Regions from separate parts of the Homo sapiens genome. Here region 2 is linked to region 1. The links come from fine-mapping of genetic effects on gene expression. Tissue or cell type: whole blood. Region 1 holds a variant in brackets; the other region holds the start of a gene. All regions are shown on one strand. Distances are between the middles of the regions.

Region 1 (8,102 bases):
TGTGTTTTATTCCAGGGGCATCCATTTGACTCCCCCAGCCCCACTCATGGTAGCAGTGGGGACTCAGCTGATCTCACTCTACACCCACCCACAGTTGCCACAGGGTAAGCCCAGTGCCCTTTTGCCCAAGGTCAGGTCACTTGGTGCTGGGGCGTCACAGAGCCCAGGAAACTTGGGATCAGAACCCCCTGCTCCCCGCTCCCCACCTCATCCCTCCAGAGGACTTCTCTTCTCTCCCGGTACCTTTGCCTTCTGGGAGCAGTAGCCCCTCCAGGGGAACAGCTCCCAGGTTGCAGACCTGAGCAGTCGGGCCATAGCCAGGCACTGGCCAGAGGGTGTGAGCACTGGGTGGCAGGGTGACCAGTCAGCTACTGTGGCAGCAGCTACTGCTGCTGTCAGCCCATTGGCTAGGCCAGGGGTGGGGCCTGCTTAAGGTGGCACGGGCTTTAAGGTGGCCCTTGCAGATCTTGCAGACATTTTCGTGGGCTCCAGGGACGACACTTCTAAAGGAGAGGCGAGGTTCACTGGACGTTTTGGGAAACTGTAAGGCAAAAATAAAATTCTAAGCCTCCCAACCGACTGAATGGACCTCCCTCTCAGCCCAGGGCATTCCAAAATAAACCTGAAAAATTAATTCAGGCTGTGATGGGAAGAGGTTTAGGACAAGCCTCATTATCCCCCTCCTTCCTTTAGAATTCAGACACAACTGACCAGCATTAACATTAAAACAGAGACCTTAAGGCATTCTGATCTTAAGACACAAAACAGACTCTTTGTAGCAATAAGATACCAAATTCCAACCTGACTCTAGCATCACCTGACAGATAGCAGGCCCTGAAAGAAATCAATGTATTTTACCCCCAAAATATATTCCTCTGATTTTTTTTTTAAATAGCTCCAAAAAGCTGTCTTTTGTGGGGAAAATCTAGAATCTGTAGAGAATCCCCTCCCCTTTCCAGGTTTTTTGTTTTGTTTTGTTTTGTTTTGAGACAGAGTCACTCTGTGGCCCAGGCTGGAGTGCAGTAGCGTGCTGCAACCTCCACCCACTGGGTTCAAGCGATTCTCCTGCCTCAGCCTCCCAAGTAGCTGGGATTACAGGTGCCTGCCACTGTGCCCAGATAATTTTTCTATTTTTAGTAGAGACAGGGTTTCACCATCTTGGCCAGGCTGGTCTTGAACTCCTGACCTCGTGATCCACCTGCCTTGGCCTCCCAAAGTGCTGGGATTACAGGCATGAGCCACCGCGTCCAGCCTCTTTCCAGGTTTTATCCTGATCTAAGGGAGATTTAACTAAGAGTCTGGCACCTTTTAACGCCTTAGACATTTACCATCTATGTTACATAATAAGAACCTTGGGCCGGGTGCAGCGGCTCACATCTGTAATGCCAGCACTTTGGGAGGCCAAAGTGGGAGGATCACGAGGTCAAGAGATAGAGACCCTCTTGGCCAACATGGTGAAACCCCGTTTCTACTAAAAATACAAAAATTAGCTGGGCATGGTGGTACACGCCTGTAGTCTCAGCTACTTGGGAGGCTGAGGCAGGAGAATCGCTTGAACCCAGGAGGTGGAGGTTGCAGTGAGCTGAGATCGCACCACGGCACTCCAGCCTGGCGACAGAGCGAGACTCTGTCTCAAAAAAAAAGAACCTTGGTCTCCACAACTCCTTATCTTAACCCAGATGCTTATTTCTATTGATTCCAGGTTGTCTTTTTTAAAATTTTTTATTTAAAAAAAATTTTGTTGTTGTATACCAAGATTCCAAGTCTTTGGATAATAACTTCTTTCAACCAATTGAAAATCAGAAATTTTTTTTTTTTTTTGAGATGGAGTCTCACTCTGTTGCTCAGGCAGTGGCGTGATCTCAGCTCACTACAACCTCCATCTCCTGGGTTCAAGCTGTTCTCATGCCTCAGCCTCCCAAGTAGCTGGGATTACAGGAGTGCCACCATGCCCAGCTAATTTTTGTATTTTTAATAGAGACAGGGTTTCACCATGTTGGTCCAGGCTGGTCTCGAACTCCTGACCTCAAGTGATCCACCCGCCTTGGCTCCCCAAAATGCTGGGATTACAAGTGTGAGCCACCGTGCCCAGCGCCAATCAGAAAAGTCTTTGAATTCACCTATGACCTGTAAGCTCCTCCCTCAATCAGAAGGAACCAATGCATACCCTGCTTATATTGATTACTGTCTGATGCCTCCCTAAACTGTATAAAACCAGTTGTAACTCAACTGCCTTGGGTACATGTTCTCAGGACCTCCAGGGAATGTGTCACAGGTCATGGTCTTCATGTGAGTGGTGGGAAATCCATACAGGTCTACATAAAACTCAATGCTTGCCTCATCAGAAGAAAGAATTCTACTGAAGAGGTCTGAAAGGGAAATATCTTGAGCCCCCAAAATTACTAAGCTAAAGGGAAAAGTCAAGCTGGGAACTGCTTAAGGCAAACCTGCCTCCCATTCTTTCAAAGTCACCCCTCTGATCACTGAGCTAAATGCATATCTGATTGCCTCCTTTTGAGAGGATAATTAGAAACTCAAAAGAATGCAAACATTTGTCTCTTATCTACCTATGACCGGGAAGCCCCCTCCCTGTCTTTCCAGACCCAAACAATGTTCATCTTACGTATGTTGAGTGACGTCTCAAGTCTCCCCAAAATGTATAAAACTAAATTGTGCTCTGACCACCTTGGGGACATGTCATTGGGATCTCCTGAGGCTGTGTCACACCATCATCATTGGCAAAATAAACTTTCTAAATTAACTGAGACCTTTCTCAGATTTGGGGGGTTCATATTTTGGTAACCACAGAAGAATTCTGACTGGAGGCGCCCCTGACCTTTGACAAAGCTATCAGTGCTTGGTACCAGCTTGAGCTATCTTTATGGCTCAAACCAATAGGACAATTTGCTGAGGCCCGGAAGCACACCCTCCAGAGAATACCTTATCTTTCAAAATCTGGTCAAGATCTAAAGTTCATTTTGTTGTACAACTCCTCTTTTTTTTTTGGAGTTTTACTTGCTTCTAACACAAGGAAGGCAAATTTTTCCTGCTTCCATGTTGATGGAAGGCAGGTAACTCCTTTATGGTGTTTGAGCTCGCAACCAACAGGGAAGATGAGGGTTTTTCCCTGCTTCTAGGATGGTAGAGAGCAGTCTTCAGCCTGAAACCCATCCCTAGGTAAGTAACTGAATTGGGGTTTGTTTTGGCTAAAGTTAAGATTACAACCAGCTGGTCTTAATTTCTCCTTACCACTAGAAAGCTTAGTAATCATATAAATTGTGTGATCATTTGTTTTGCTTAACTGTTTTGTTGTTGTTCATTTCTCTTTTTGTTGTTCTTTCAGTCTTTTTCCCATTGGGTTTGATCAACTCTATCTGACTTGATCAAATACAAAGGAAGTCCCAAATTATGGGGAACAAGGCCTCTGAAGTGGCTAAATTCACACACACACACATACACAAAGGATGATGTGATAGGGGGTGAAAAACAGCCAGCAAAAGGAAAAAAAAAAGGAAAGATTTTTTATTTTGACTACTAAGTGGCTTTAGTTACACAACGAGGCCACCTTTTTGCTAGCCAGGCCAAACTGAAAGAGCAATGGCTGTGCTTCTGAAATAGCAGCAATTTGTCCTAGCTGAAATATGGTAATGAGATTTTAAAAGATTTTTTTAAAGGAGCTCAATGATTAAAAGTCAGCTTAATTAAAAGCTAACATCGAAGATGTGCATGTGTATGTGTGGTGTGTGTGTGTGTGCGCATGTGCGTGTGTGTGTTTGTATTTAAAAGGACTTCATGTTTTTGTTTTTGTTTTTCTCCAAGAATCTTGTCTTTTTTTGAGCGAAAGTTTTTTTCTTCTCAGTTGACTGAATTCTGTTTTCTTCATTTACTTCGGCTGTATCTCCTTTCTCTTGCACCCTCTGCTGCATGAGGGACCTAAAATAGTTTATAATAGCTGGGGTTCCTTAAAGAGAACAGAGAAGGCACCAGGCTCCCTTTAAGGGAGAAACCTGTTTTTTCTTATGCAATCCCCAGAGTGTAAACAGGCAAGTTCGTCTCGTCTCTTCAACTGCTTACTTTTGTATTGTTGTTACCTGTTTGTGGTTTTTTTTTGGGTTTTTTTTTGTTTTTTTTTTTGACTAAAATAGTTATTGCAACAGAGGTTACCCTTGGGTTTTTTTGTTTTTTGTTTTTTGTATTGTTTGTTTGTTTGTTTTGAGTCTGAGTTTCACTCTGTCGCCCAGGCTGGAGTGCAGTGGCGCAATCTCGGCTCACTGCAAGCTCCGCCTCCCGGGTTCACGCCATTCTCCTGCCTCAGCCTCCCAAGTAGCTGGGACTACAAGCGCCACCATGCCCAGCTTGTTTTTTGTTTGTTTGTTTGTTTGTTTGTTTGTTTTGTATTTTTAGTAGAGACGGGTTTCACCGTGTTAGCCAGGATGGTCTCGATCTCCTGACCTCATGATCCGCCCGCCTCAGCCTCCCAAAGTGCTGGGATTACAGGCATAAGCCACTGCACCCAGCCTACCCTTGGGTTTTTAAGGAAGACTATGGTTTAGACACTTAGAAATGTCTTTGTTTAAAAGAAGTTTTTTAAAAAGTGCACTGTAAAAGCATCACGTGTTCTAACCTCATAATAAGTGTCCCTTCTTGGAGACCCAGGATTCAGTGTGGGCTCTGCCCAGAGCTCAGAGATCCACTTAAAAGGTAGTCCCTTTATCTAAATAAAACTAGTCTCCTTATACAATCCTATGATAAATTTCTTTTTTGTTTTTTTTTTTTTGAGACAGAGTCTCGCTGTCACCCAGGTTGGAGTACAGTGGGGTGATCTCTGTACTCCAGAGAGTACAGACATAACTGGGACTACAGGCGCCCACCACCACGCCCAGCTAATTTTTTGTATTTTTAATAGAGACGGGGTTTCGCCGTGTTAGCCAGGATGGTTTCGATCTCCTGACCTTGTGATCC[G/A]CCCACCTCGGCCCCCCAAAGTGTTGGGATTACAGGAATGAACCACCACACCCGGCAAATTTCTTTAATTTTATGTTTGATTTGGCATTCATCTTTCATCTCCCTCTGGCACCATCAGACTTTTTCTCTCTGTACCTTATGATGTAAATTTTGCTATTTGATTTTCACCTGAGTTGTTTCCTTTAATATGCAAACATAAGGCTAGTTAGCTGACAACTGCCTAGGGTTGTGAAGCAGGTTATCAATAATCTGAGTGTATCCATAAGATGTACTTCTATCAGCATGCCTAATACGTCTATGTATTTATGTGTTGTGTACACAATGCTTCACTACTGAAAATGCTTAAAAGAGCTCTAATTAACTGGCTTAAGAAAATAAAAGTGCTCGAATGAAATGCTTTATCAGGAAAAAAGACTCGTCAAATATTTTTTCAAGTTTATGTAACTCAGTAAAATTATTAATAAATAAGCTAGCCTTAAAATTACTGGTAAAGTAATATTAGAAATGTCTGAAGAATTGCCAGCATACATTTTTGTTTGCATATTAATCCAGCAGTTTCATACTTATCCCTGCCAAATACTATAAGGTGTCAAAATTTCTCATAGGGGTTACAAAACTGTATACCCAGCCCAAAACAGAATGATCTTTGCTTGTGTAAGCTTGTTAGAAATGCAAAATGCTTATTCCCCAGTGCCACAAAGAAATAGCACTCAAACATAAATTTAGTTTTCTCAGCAAGGCAATTTTCACTTTCTGCAGAAAAGGTGCCCCTCGCAGATGAAACAATGGTGAGAGCACACTTGGACAGGGGAGGGGCAGGAGTTCTTATTCCTCATGCAGGTAGCCCCTACTGCTGTGTCGTTCCCCTATTGGATAGGGTTGGACCGCACAGTCTAAGCTAATTCCAATTGACTATTTTAAAAAGAGCAGGAGTACCAGCCGGAGTGGCAGGGTGAGTAGTTTAGCAGTAAGGGCGGTTACAGAACAGTTGGCTCAGGATGAATCAGGACAGAGTAGGTGACCAAGAGTGACTCAGGTCAAAGCAGGTGACCAGGGGAACAGCTGTGAACTACTGATTAGGACTGGCGGGAAAGTTGTTTACTGAAACTAGAAGCTAGGGGGCAAAGAGAACCAGGAAGCTAAACTTTAAAATGGAGAATCAAAGAATAAGAGAGCTGAACATACTGACATACTGATTCTTTGAAGAGAAACTTGGAGTTCACTATATTTAACAAATCTTTAATAAATAAGACATTAATATTGGTTTAATAAAAATAGCTACATCTTAAATTTAGTAAGATTACCATAACTTCTCATCTTGTGGCTTTAGGCAGTCCGGTCTATAGGCAATAGTGTTTGTTTTGGAAAAGCACTGTTATCATCTTTGTTTCAAAGCTAAATTATAAGTTCCTCCCAAAGTTAGTTTGGCCTATGCCCAGGAATGAACAAGAACAGCTTGGAGGTTAGAAGCAAGATGGAGTCACTTAGGTGCAATCTTTTTCACTGTCTCAGTGATAATTTTGCAATGGCAGTTCCATAATTTTAAATAATGACAAGCACAGTTTTTATAAATAATCTAGGTAAGTAATTAAAATAAAATAAGTAAATATTATAGGATAAATATAGACAAACTCATAATTTTGAATCTAAAGTTAAATAATAGAGATTTTATTATTTGGGTATTTTCCAATAAAAATATATTTGGGCCAAGTGCAGTGGCTCACACCTGTAATCCCAGCACTTGGGGAGGACAAGGCGAGTGGATCACGTGAGGTCAGAAGTTTGAGACCAGCCTGGCCAACATGGTGAAACCTCATCTCTATTAAAAATGCAAAAATTAGCTGGGCACAGTGGTGCATGCCTGTAGTCCCAGCTACTCAGGAGGCTGAGGCAGGAGAATCACTTGAACCCAGGAGGTGGAGGTTGCAGTGAACCAAGATCATGCCACTGCACTCCAGCCTGGGCGACACAGAGACTCTGTCTAAAATATATATATGTGTATATATATATATATGTGTATATATATTTGTGGAATGTTTTCCTACAAATATATATATAAGAATGTGTGTGTGTGTGTGTGTGTATATGTATATATATATATATATATATATATATATATATATATATATATATGTAGGAAAACATTCTTTTTTTTTGGAGAAAGAGTCTTCCTCTGTCACCCAGGCTGGAGTGCAGTGGTGCAGGGTTCAAGCAATTCTCCTGCCTCAGCCTCCCAAGTAGCTGGGACTACAGATGCATGCCACCATGTCTGGCTAATTTTTTGTATTTTAGTAGAGACAGAGTTTCACTATGTTGCCCAGGCTGGTCTCGAACTCCTGAGCTCAGGCAATCTGTCCACCTCAGCCTCCCAAAGTGCTGGGATTACAGGTGTGAGCCACCACACAGGCCAAAAACATTCTTTCTTAAAAAAAGTTGTGTCCCAGCCAGGTGTGGTGGCTCACACCTGTAATCCCAGCACTTTAGGAGGCCAAGGAGGATGCATCACAAGGTCAGGAAATCAAGACCATTCTGGCCGACACGGTGAAACCCTGTCTCTACTAAAAATACAAAAAAAAATTAGCTGGGCCTGATAGCACGCACCTGTAGTCCCAACTACTCGGGAGGCAGAGGGAGGAGAATCACTTGAACCCAGGAAGCAGAGGTTGCAGTAAGCCAAGATTGCGCCTCTGCACTCCAGCCTGGGTGACAAAGTGAGACTCCATCTCAAAAAAAGTAAAATACAAATAAAAAATAAGTGTGTCCTTTTGAAAAAGGTGAACAATTTTTGTCTAATTGAAAGTTTTTTTTTTTTGAGACAAGAGTCTTGCTCTGTTGCCCAGGCTGGAGTGCAGTGGTACAAAGCTCACTGCAACCTCTGCCTTCCAGGTTCAAGCGATTCTCCTGCCTCAGCCTCCCAAGTAGCTGGGATTACAGGCACCCACCACCACTCCTGGCTAATTCTGATATTTTTTAGTAGAGACAGGGTTTTGCCATGTTAGCCAGGCTGGTCTTGGACTCCTGACCTCAGGTGATCTGCCCTCCTCAGCCTCTTAAAGTGCTGGGATTACAGGCGTGAGCCACCACGCCCGGCTTCAAAGCTAATTTAAAGGTCATGTATAAAACAAGGTAAAAGGGGCCGG
Region 2 (8,102 bases), 140 kb before region 1:
ACTATAAAAAAGACTTTCACACTTCAGACTGGGGTTTTCCTCTGAAAAATCTAAGTCTTTTTTTTTTTTTTTTTTGAGACAGAGTTTCGCTCTTGCCCAGGCTGTAGTGCAACGGTGCGATTTGGCTCGCTGCAACCTCCGCCTCCCAGGTTCAAGTGACTCTCCTGCCTCAGCCTCCCGAGTAGGTGGAATTACAGGCACACGCCACCATGCCTGGCTAATTTTTGTATTTTTAGTAGAGATGGGGTTTCACCATGTTGGCCAGGCTGGTCTCAAACTCCTGACCTCAGGTGATCTACCTGCCTTGGCCTCCTAAAGTGCTAGGATTACAGGCGTTAGCCTACGCCCAGCCAAAAAATCTAAAAGTTTTAATTTTAAAAAATTATTTTCAGACCAGGTGCAATGGCTCACATCTGTAATCCAGCGCTTTGGGAGGCTGAGGCAGGCATATCACTTCAGGTAAGGAGTTCAAGACCAGCCTGGCCAACATGACGAAACCCCATCTCTACTAAAATACAAAAATTAGCCCGGTGTGGTGGGGCACGCCTGTAATCCCAGCTACTCAGGAGGCAGGAGAAGCACTTGAACCCAGGAGGTGGAGGTGACAGCGAGCTGAGATTGCGCCACTGCACTCCAGCCTGGGCAACAGAGCGAGACTCCATCTCAAAAATAAAAAAATATATATTTTTAGGCCAAGGTGGGAGGATCACTTCAGCTCAGGAGTTCAAGACCAGCCTGAACAAGAACGTAAAGCCCCATCTCTGCAAAAAAAAACACACAAAAAGGCCGGGTGCGGTGGCTCACGCCTGTAATCCCAGCACTTTGGGAGGCTGAGGCGGGCGGATCACAAGGTCAGGAGATCGAGACCATCCTGGCTAACACGGTGAAACCCTGTCTCTACTAAAAAAAATATATATATACAAAAAATTAGCCAGGCGTGGTGGTGGGCGCCTGTAGTCCCAGCTACTTGGGAGGTTGAGGCAGGAGAATGCCGTGAACCTGGGAGGCAGAGTTTGCAGTGAGCAGAGATCATGCCACTGCACTCCAGCCTGGGCGACAGAGAGAGACTCTGTCTCAAAAAAAAAACAAAAAAAACACACACACACAAAATTGTGGGGCTTGGTGGTGTGCACCTGTATTCACAGCTACTCAGGAGACTGAGGTGGGAAGATCACTTGATACCATAAGGTTGAGGCTGAGGTGAGCCAAGATTGCACCACTGCATTCCAGCCTGGGTGACAGAGCAAGACCCTGTCTTACACATATATACATATATATTTTTTGTATTTTTTTAGACAATACATATACATTTACATATATATATATATATATATATATATATATATATATATATATATATATTTTTTTTTTTTTTAGATGGAGTCTCACTCTGTCGCCCAGGCTGGAGTACAGTGGTGAGATCTTGGCTCACTGCAACCTCTGCCTCCCAGGTTCAAGCTATTCTCCTGCCTTAGCCTCCCAAGTAGCTGGGATTACAGGTGCATGCCACTATGGTCGGCTAATTTTTGTATCTTTAGTAGAGATAGGGTTTCACCATGTTGGCCAGGCTGGTCTCAAACTCCTGACCTCAGGTGATCCGCCTACCTCGGCCTCCCAAAGTGGTGGGATTACAGGCGTGAGCCACCACGCCTGGCCATATATGTATATTTTTTAGGCCAGGCACGGTGGCTCACGCCTGTAATCCCAGCACTTTGGGAAGCTGCAGCAGGAAAATCACTTGAACCTCGGAGTTCAAGACCACCTGGGCAAGATACAGAGACTCCTATCCCTATTTAAAAAAAAAATGCAAAATGAAAGAAATTTAAATATTTTAATTAAAAATTTTTTAATAAAATTATTATTTAAAAGATGTGGAGTGTTTTGAAAAGTTTATTGCTCCTATTCATAAAGGCATTATGAAGAGTTTTAACTTTGTCTTTCTACATTAACAAAATAGTTAATAAAATGGGTTCCTGCCCCTTCCAATCATCACCAGAATCACCCACAAAACCATGCTAATTCACATAAAGAGGAAGCCTTGTAAATAGGAAAATCAGAACAAAAAAACAGAAACTCCCACAAGGCAGTAAAATTACCCAATTTACTTTGTTCTCTTACTGTGACAACTGCTGTTGAGGTTTAATTATTTGCTACGACTTCATAGCATCCTAATATATGTGTCAGCACCCTCTCTGCAGGTCTCTTCAATTACATCTCTATAAACAGGCAGGGGTGAGACTACCTGGGTTTCTGTGAAAATTAAAGGGTTTGCAGATTAGTAGCTTCCAAATTAGCAGGCTTAGAGGCATGATACATGATTCTATTCTGTCCTAGTTGCCAGTAAAAGCAATTAACAAGAAAGAAAACAGGAATATGGTTCCTTTTCCAAGGAGTCTGGCGCCTCCCTAGGGAGAGCAGGTCTCACGGAGACTCTGTGCTGACAGTACTTGGGGGTCCTTAATCCAAATGCTACTGCTCAAATTCTCAGTAGAGGCTACTGATCAGAGGGCACCACAGAGCAAAATGGTGGGTAGCTCCTCCACTCACTCATTCTCCGGCAAAAGACAGGATGGGGTTTTGGAAAGAAGAAACCACATCACCCATTCATACTTATCCAGATCTCCCTCAGTATGAATCACCTGTGCATGGTATAGTGTATACCTGAAGGGAGCTCAGTAAATCCTTGTTGAATAAATGAGTGAATAAAAGTGTGGCACACAGAAGGTATTTGATAAATATTAGTTGAATAAATGAAAAGAATGGCCAGGCACAGTCGCTCACACCTGTAATCCCAATATTTTGGGAGGCCAAAGTGGGAGAATCGCCTGAGGCCAGGGGTTCAAGACCAGCCTGGGCAACACAAAGAGACTCTGTCTCTACAAAAAATAATAGGCCAGGTGTAGTGGCTCACACCTGTAATCCCAGCACTTTAGGAGGCCAAGGCAGATGGATCACTTGAGGCCAGGAGTTCAAGACCAGCCTGGCCAACAGAGCGAAACCCCGTCTCTACAAAAAATACAAAACTTAGCCAGGCATGGTGGCACGTGCCTGTAATCCCAGCTACTCGGGAGGCTGAGGCACAAGAATCGTTTGAACCTGGGAGGCAGAGGTTGCAGTGAACCAAGATCATGCCACTACACTACAGTCTGGGTCATAGAGTGAGACTCTGTCTCAAAAAAAAAGGTAAATAAATTTAAAATTGAAGAGAATCACCAAGACACTGTCCTAGGTGCTGGGGAAGAGGGGATGTATATGACCGGTTCAGAGCTACCCACTATGAGTAAAGTAGTCCAATGAGCTAAACAAGGGCTCTGGGGTAGGATCCAGCATCCAAATCCCAATGCTGTGTGTGCCACACATCCTCAACATACAACCACATAAAATCTTCACTCGAGGCTGTGCTCAGTGAATCACACCTGTAATCCCAACACTTTGGGACGCTGAGGCAGGGGGTTCGCTTGAGCCCAGGAGTTCCATACCAGCCTGGACAACATAGGGAGACCCCGTCTCTACAAAAAAAAATGAAAAATTTAGTCGGGCGTGTTGGCATGCGCCTGTAGTCTCAGCTACTGGGGAGGCTGAGGTGGGAGGATAGCTTGAGCCCAGGAGGTCGAAGCTGAACTGAGCGGTGATTCACGCCTCTGCACTCAAGCCTGGGTGACAGAGCCAGACCCTGTCTCAAATGAAGTAAAATAGGCCAGGCACGGTGGCCCACGCCTGTAATCCCAGCACTTTGGGAGGCTGAGGTGGGTGGATCACCTGAGGTCAGGAGTTCAAGACCAGCCTGACCAACAAGGTGAAACCCCGTCTCTACTAAAAATACAAAAATTAGCCGGGCGTGGTGGTGCGCACCTGTAATCCCAGCTACTTGGGAGGCTGAGGCAGGAGAATTGCTTGAATCCCGGAGGCGGAGGTTGCAGTGAGCCAAGATGGCACCACTGCACTCCAGCCTGGGCAACAGAGTGACTCTCCATCTCAAAAAAAATAAATTAAATTAAATTAAATAGAAAATTAAAAAATAAAATCTTTAAGCCAATCTTGTAAGTACGACCATCTCCCTTCTACAGGTGAGAAAACTGACGTGTACGGAGTGATGACAGGGTAGGGGCTGCGGGATTCGAACTCGGGCAACACGTGCAGTGTCACTCCTATCCACTACACGGTATTTTCCAGTATGATGGCATTAAGAACCACTTAACCGCGTAGACGCTGCAACAGGCACTTTGCAAACAGTGTTTCATCGAATTCACCCCAACAGGGTTACGTCCACGCAGCTGAGACTTAGAAAAGTCCCGCGACTTGCCTTAAGTCGCCACACGCGGCTAGGGCCTCGGGAAGCCGTCACGCCCTCGCTCCGTACCCTGATTGTGGGAAGCCTCCCCTCAGCACTCACGATGCGCAGTCTCTGCCTCAGTGTCACAAGGCGGACCCCACTCCCCTACCCGCGTAGGGAGCCCCGAAACTCCGTCCATGCTCGCCCCGATTGCCCCCGATGGTCGTCTTCCCTCCCCCGACGGGGCCTAAGAGGTCGGCTAAGCCCCGCCCACCTCCTCAGTACGGGGCCTAGGGTCTCCCCGTAGCCCCCCGGGACGGAAGCAGCCGCGTGGGGGAGGGGAAGCGGGGAGGACGCATGCCCAGAGGGCTCCACTCGGCCTCTAGCTCACCTGGGAGTCACGGAACTCTACAACCACGTTTTCGCTGCTCCATCGCGCCGCCATCTCCCCCGCCCGGCCGCCGCGGCCCCAGGACGGCGCCCTCCCACCCCGCCGTCCCCAGTATCCCGGGACCGTGCGCCCCACACAGCCAGAGAATCAGCCCCGACACGCCCCGTGCCCTGGTTGCTCCTGAGCTCAAGCCATTGGTTGACCCAAGCATAGGCTCCGCCCCTTCTTCCTGGGTCCTCCAATTGCTACACCGCGCCTGCAACAAACAGGCACGCCCTCGCTCACTTCCGTCACTTGGTTTGAGTCACCCACGCTCCTCGCGATTGCGGGCACACCCCCTGCCGCGAGCTCTGCCGGGAGTTGTAGTCCAAGCTCGAGCAAGCGTGGGTGACCTGGGAAGGGCTCGCAGGTTTGGGTTTGGGTGAGGTGAGGTGCCTGTTGTCCTGACTAGCTCCTCGCTGGAGTCCCCAGCATTCGTCCAGACCCAGTCTCAAATCAAAATCAACGTTCGGGGCGGGTGCGGTGACTCACGCCTGTAATCCTAGCGCTTTGGGAGGCCGAAGTCAGGAGTTCGAGACCAGCCTAAACAACATAGTGAAACCCCGTCTCTACTAAAAATACAAAAATTAGCCGGGTGGCGGGCGCCTGTAATCCCAGCTACTTGGGAGGCTGGGGCAGGAGAATCGCTTGAACCCGGGAGGCGGAGATTGCAGTGAGCCGAGATCACGCCATTATACTCCAGCCTGGGTGACAAGAGCGAGACTCCGTCTCGGAAAAAAAAAGAAAAAAGAAAAATCAAAGCTCGTGCAAACCGAAGATACCTCTTCTCCTGATGCCTATCCCATCGAGATATTTAAAAGTCTGAATGTGCAATTTATTGTTTCATACAATACAGCAGCGCCTCCCGTAACAATGAAGGTAGACTTAAATGTGAGAATCCAGCTGTTTTCTTGATCTGTAGTCCAATGCTCTACCTGTGAGCTATACCCCCTCCTGCAATCCAGCTGCTTTCTTTCCTTTTCTTTTTTTTTTTTTTTTTTTTTTTTTGAGACAGAGTCTTGCTCAGTCGCCCAGGCTGGAGTGCAGTGGCGCGATCTCGGCTCACTGCAAGATCCGCCTCCTGGCTTCACGCCATTCTCTTGACTCAGCCTCCGGAGTAGCTGGGACTACAGGCGCCCGCCACTACGCCCGGCTAATTTTTTTGTATTTTTAGTAGAGACGGGGTTTCACCGTTTTAGCCAGGATGGTCTCGATCTTCTGACCTCGTGATCTGCCCGTCTCGGCCTCCCAAAGTGCTGGGATTACAGGCGTGAGCCACCGCGCCCGGCCGCTGTTTTCTGATAAACCAAACATTAAAACAGATTTGCCAGAATTTTTTGTTGTTTTTTTTTTTTTTTGAAAATATTGTTCTTTTTCATTTTAAAATGTATTCATGTGAAGGGCCTTAATGTTTAAATGAAATAATGAATATATTTTTTAAATTCTGTATACTACATATAAAAGTTTTTGGGGGCCGGACGCAGTGGCTCATGCCTGTAATCCCAGCACTTTGGGAGGCTGACGTGGACGGATGGCTTGAGCCCAGAAGGAGGCTGCAGTAAGCTAGGATCACATTACTGTACTCCAGCCTGGGCGACAGAGCAAGACCTTGTCAAAAAAAAAAAAAAAGTTTTTTTGGGATTTTCAGTAATTTTTAACAGCAGTGTAAAGGGATTCCAAGATCAAAAAGTTTGAGAACCACTGTACTAACATGGTGGGTGGTGATTAAGTTTCCTTTTCAGTCCCACACTCTTAAATGTTGATTTAACTGGTTTAGCTTCAGTTTCCCTATAGAAGGGAAAAATGGCTTACCTCATTGGATTGTTGTAAGGAACTAAGCACAGGGCCTGGGATGTAGAAAAGCTCAACTATAAACTATTAATTCAGTTCTAGAAGCCAGGAAATCAATAAAAATAAAATAAAATAAACTGTTATTGTTGTTGTTAATATTATCACTATTTGTATGTGCAAGTCATTGTATGAATAGAGGTAAGAAAGTGTGGTCTCTTCCCTCCTGGAGTATTGGCTATAAGGGGGAAGACAGACTTGTTGACAGATTACGGTGACTAACTTGTTGCCTGGACCGTTTCATGTTTTATTTTTATTTTTTTGGAGAAAGGGTCTCGTTCTGTCACTGAGGCTGGAGTGCAGTGGTGTGAGCATAGCTCACCACAGCCTCCAACTCCTGGGCCCAAGCAATCCTCCTGCCTCAGCCTCCCAAGTAACTGGGACTACAGGCATGTGCTACTATGCCCAGCTATTTTTTTTTTTTTTTTTTTTTACTTTTTGTAGAGATGGTCTCGTTGTGTTGCCCAGGGTGGTTTCAAAGTAGTGGCTTCAAGCAAGTGATCCTCCGGCCTCAGCCTCTGGATTAGCTGGGACCATAGGTGTGAGCCACCATGCCTGATCCCTTTTCATATTCTAGCACTGCATCACCAAAAAGTCTTGCATCCCAAGAAACCCATAAGTTCCAGGCAAACTGGGACAACTGGTTACTCTACAACAGGAATGTGCTTGGCAGAATGACTTGTATATTATAATAGATTTGCAAGCAATATGGCAGGAGAGAAAAGCCTAAATAGGCGACCCGAAATGGCATCTTGAAATCTTGAAGAATATGACATCTGAGCTTTGTTTTGTTTTGTTTTGTTTTGTTTTGTTTTGTTTTGAGACGGAGTCTCCTTCTGTCGCCCAGGCTGGAGTGCAGTGGTGGGTGGATCACTGCAAGATCCGCCTCCCGGGTTCACGCCATTCTCCTGCCTCAGCTCCCAAGTAGCTGGGACTACAGGCGCACGCTGCCACATCCGGCTAATTTTTTGTATTTTTAGTAGAGATGGGGTTTTACCGTGTTAGCCAGGATGGTCTTGATCTCCTGACCTCGTGATCTGCCCACCTCGGCCTCCCAAAGTGCTGGGATTACAGGCGTGAGCCACTGCATCCGGCCCGACATCTGAGCTTTTCAGTATAATGTTAAGATATTGATACAGTACACTATGAAAAAAAAAAAAACACTTCACCATTAAGAGTGTGAGCAAAGGCTGGACGTGTTTGCTCACACCTGTTATTTGACAGAATCATTTAAGTCCAGGAGTTCGAGACCAGCCTGGACAACATGGCAAGACCCCATCTCTAAAAAAAAAAAAATTAAAATTAGCCAGGCGTGGTGGCATGCATCTGTAGTCCCAACTACATGGGAAGGTGAGGTGAGAGGACTGCTTGAGTCTGGGAGGTTGAGGCTGCAAAAAGCTATGATCGCGCCACTGTGCTCCAGCCTGGGTGACAGAACAAAACCCTGTCTCTAAAAAAAAATTAAAATTAAAGTCATTTCATTCCTGACTGGCTACCTCATCCATTATCTTCATGTTTCTCGAATTTGTGATACAAAGAACAACGTATAGC

Evidence for each region. PIP is the estimated chance that this variant, and not a neighbour inherited with it, causes the effect.
Region 2: it holds the start of WDR59, and the variant in region 1 is fine-mapped to the expression of WDR59 in whole blood (TOPMed, PIP 0.99).

What each region holds. Positions count from the first base shown.
Region 1 is chr16:75,116,406-75,124,507 of GRCh38, forward strand. It overlaps LDHD (lactate dehydrogenase D), which reads right to left and starts at 375. Exons shown (of 11, transcript NM_194436.3): 1 at 244-375. The coding sequence starts at 315. It also overlaps a transcript of ZFP1 not described here. The variant G/A (reference allele first, on the strand shown) is at 4,963.
Region 2 is chr16:74,980,300-74,988,401 of GRCh38, forward strand. It overlaps WDR59 (WD repeat domain 59), which reads right to left and starts at 4,824. Exons shown (of 26, transcript NM_030581.4): 1 at 4,665-4,824. The coding sequence starts at 4,718. RefSeq lists silencers at 4,570-4,879, 5,915-6,115 and an enhancer at 5,210-5,269.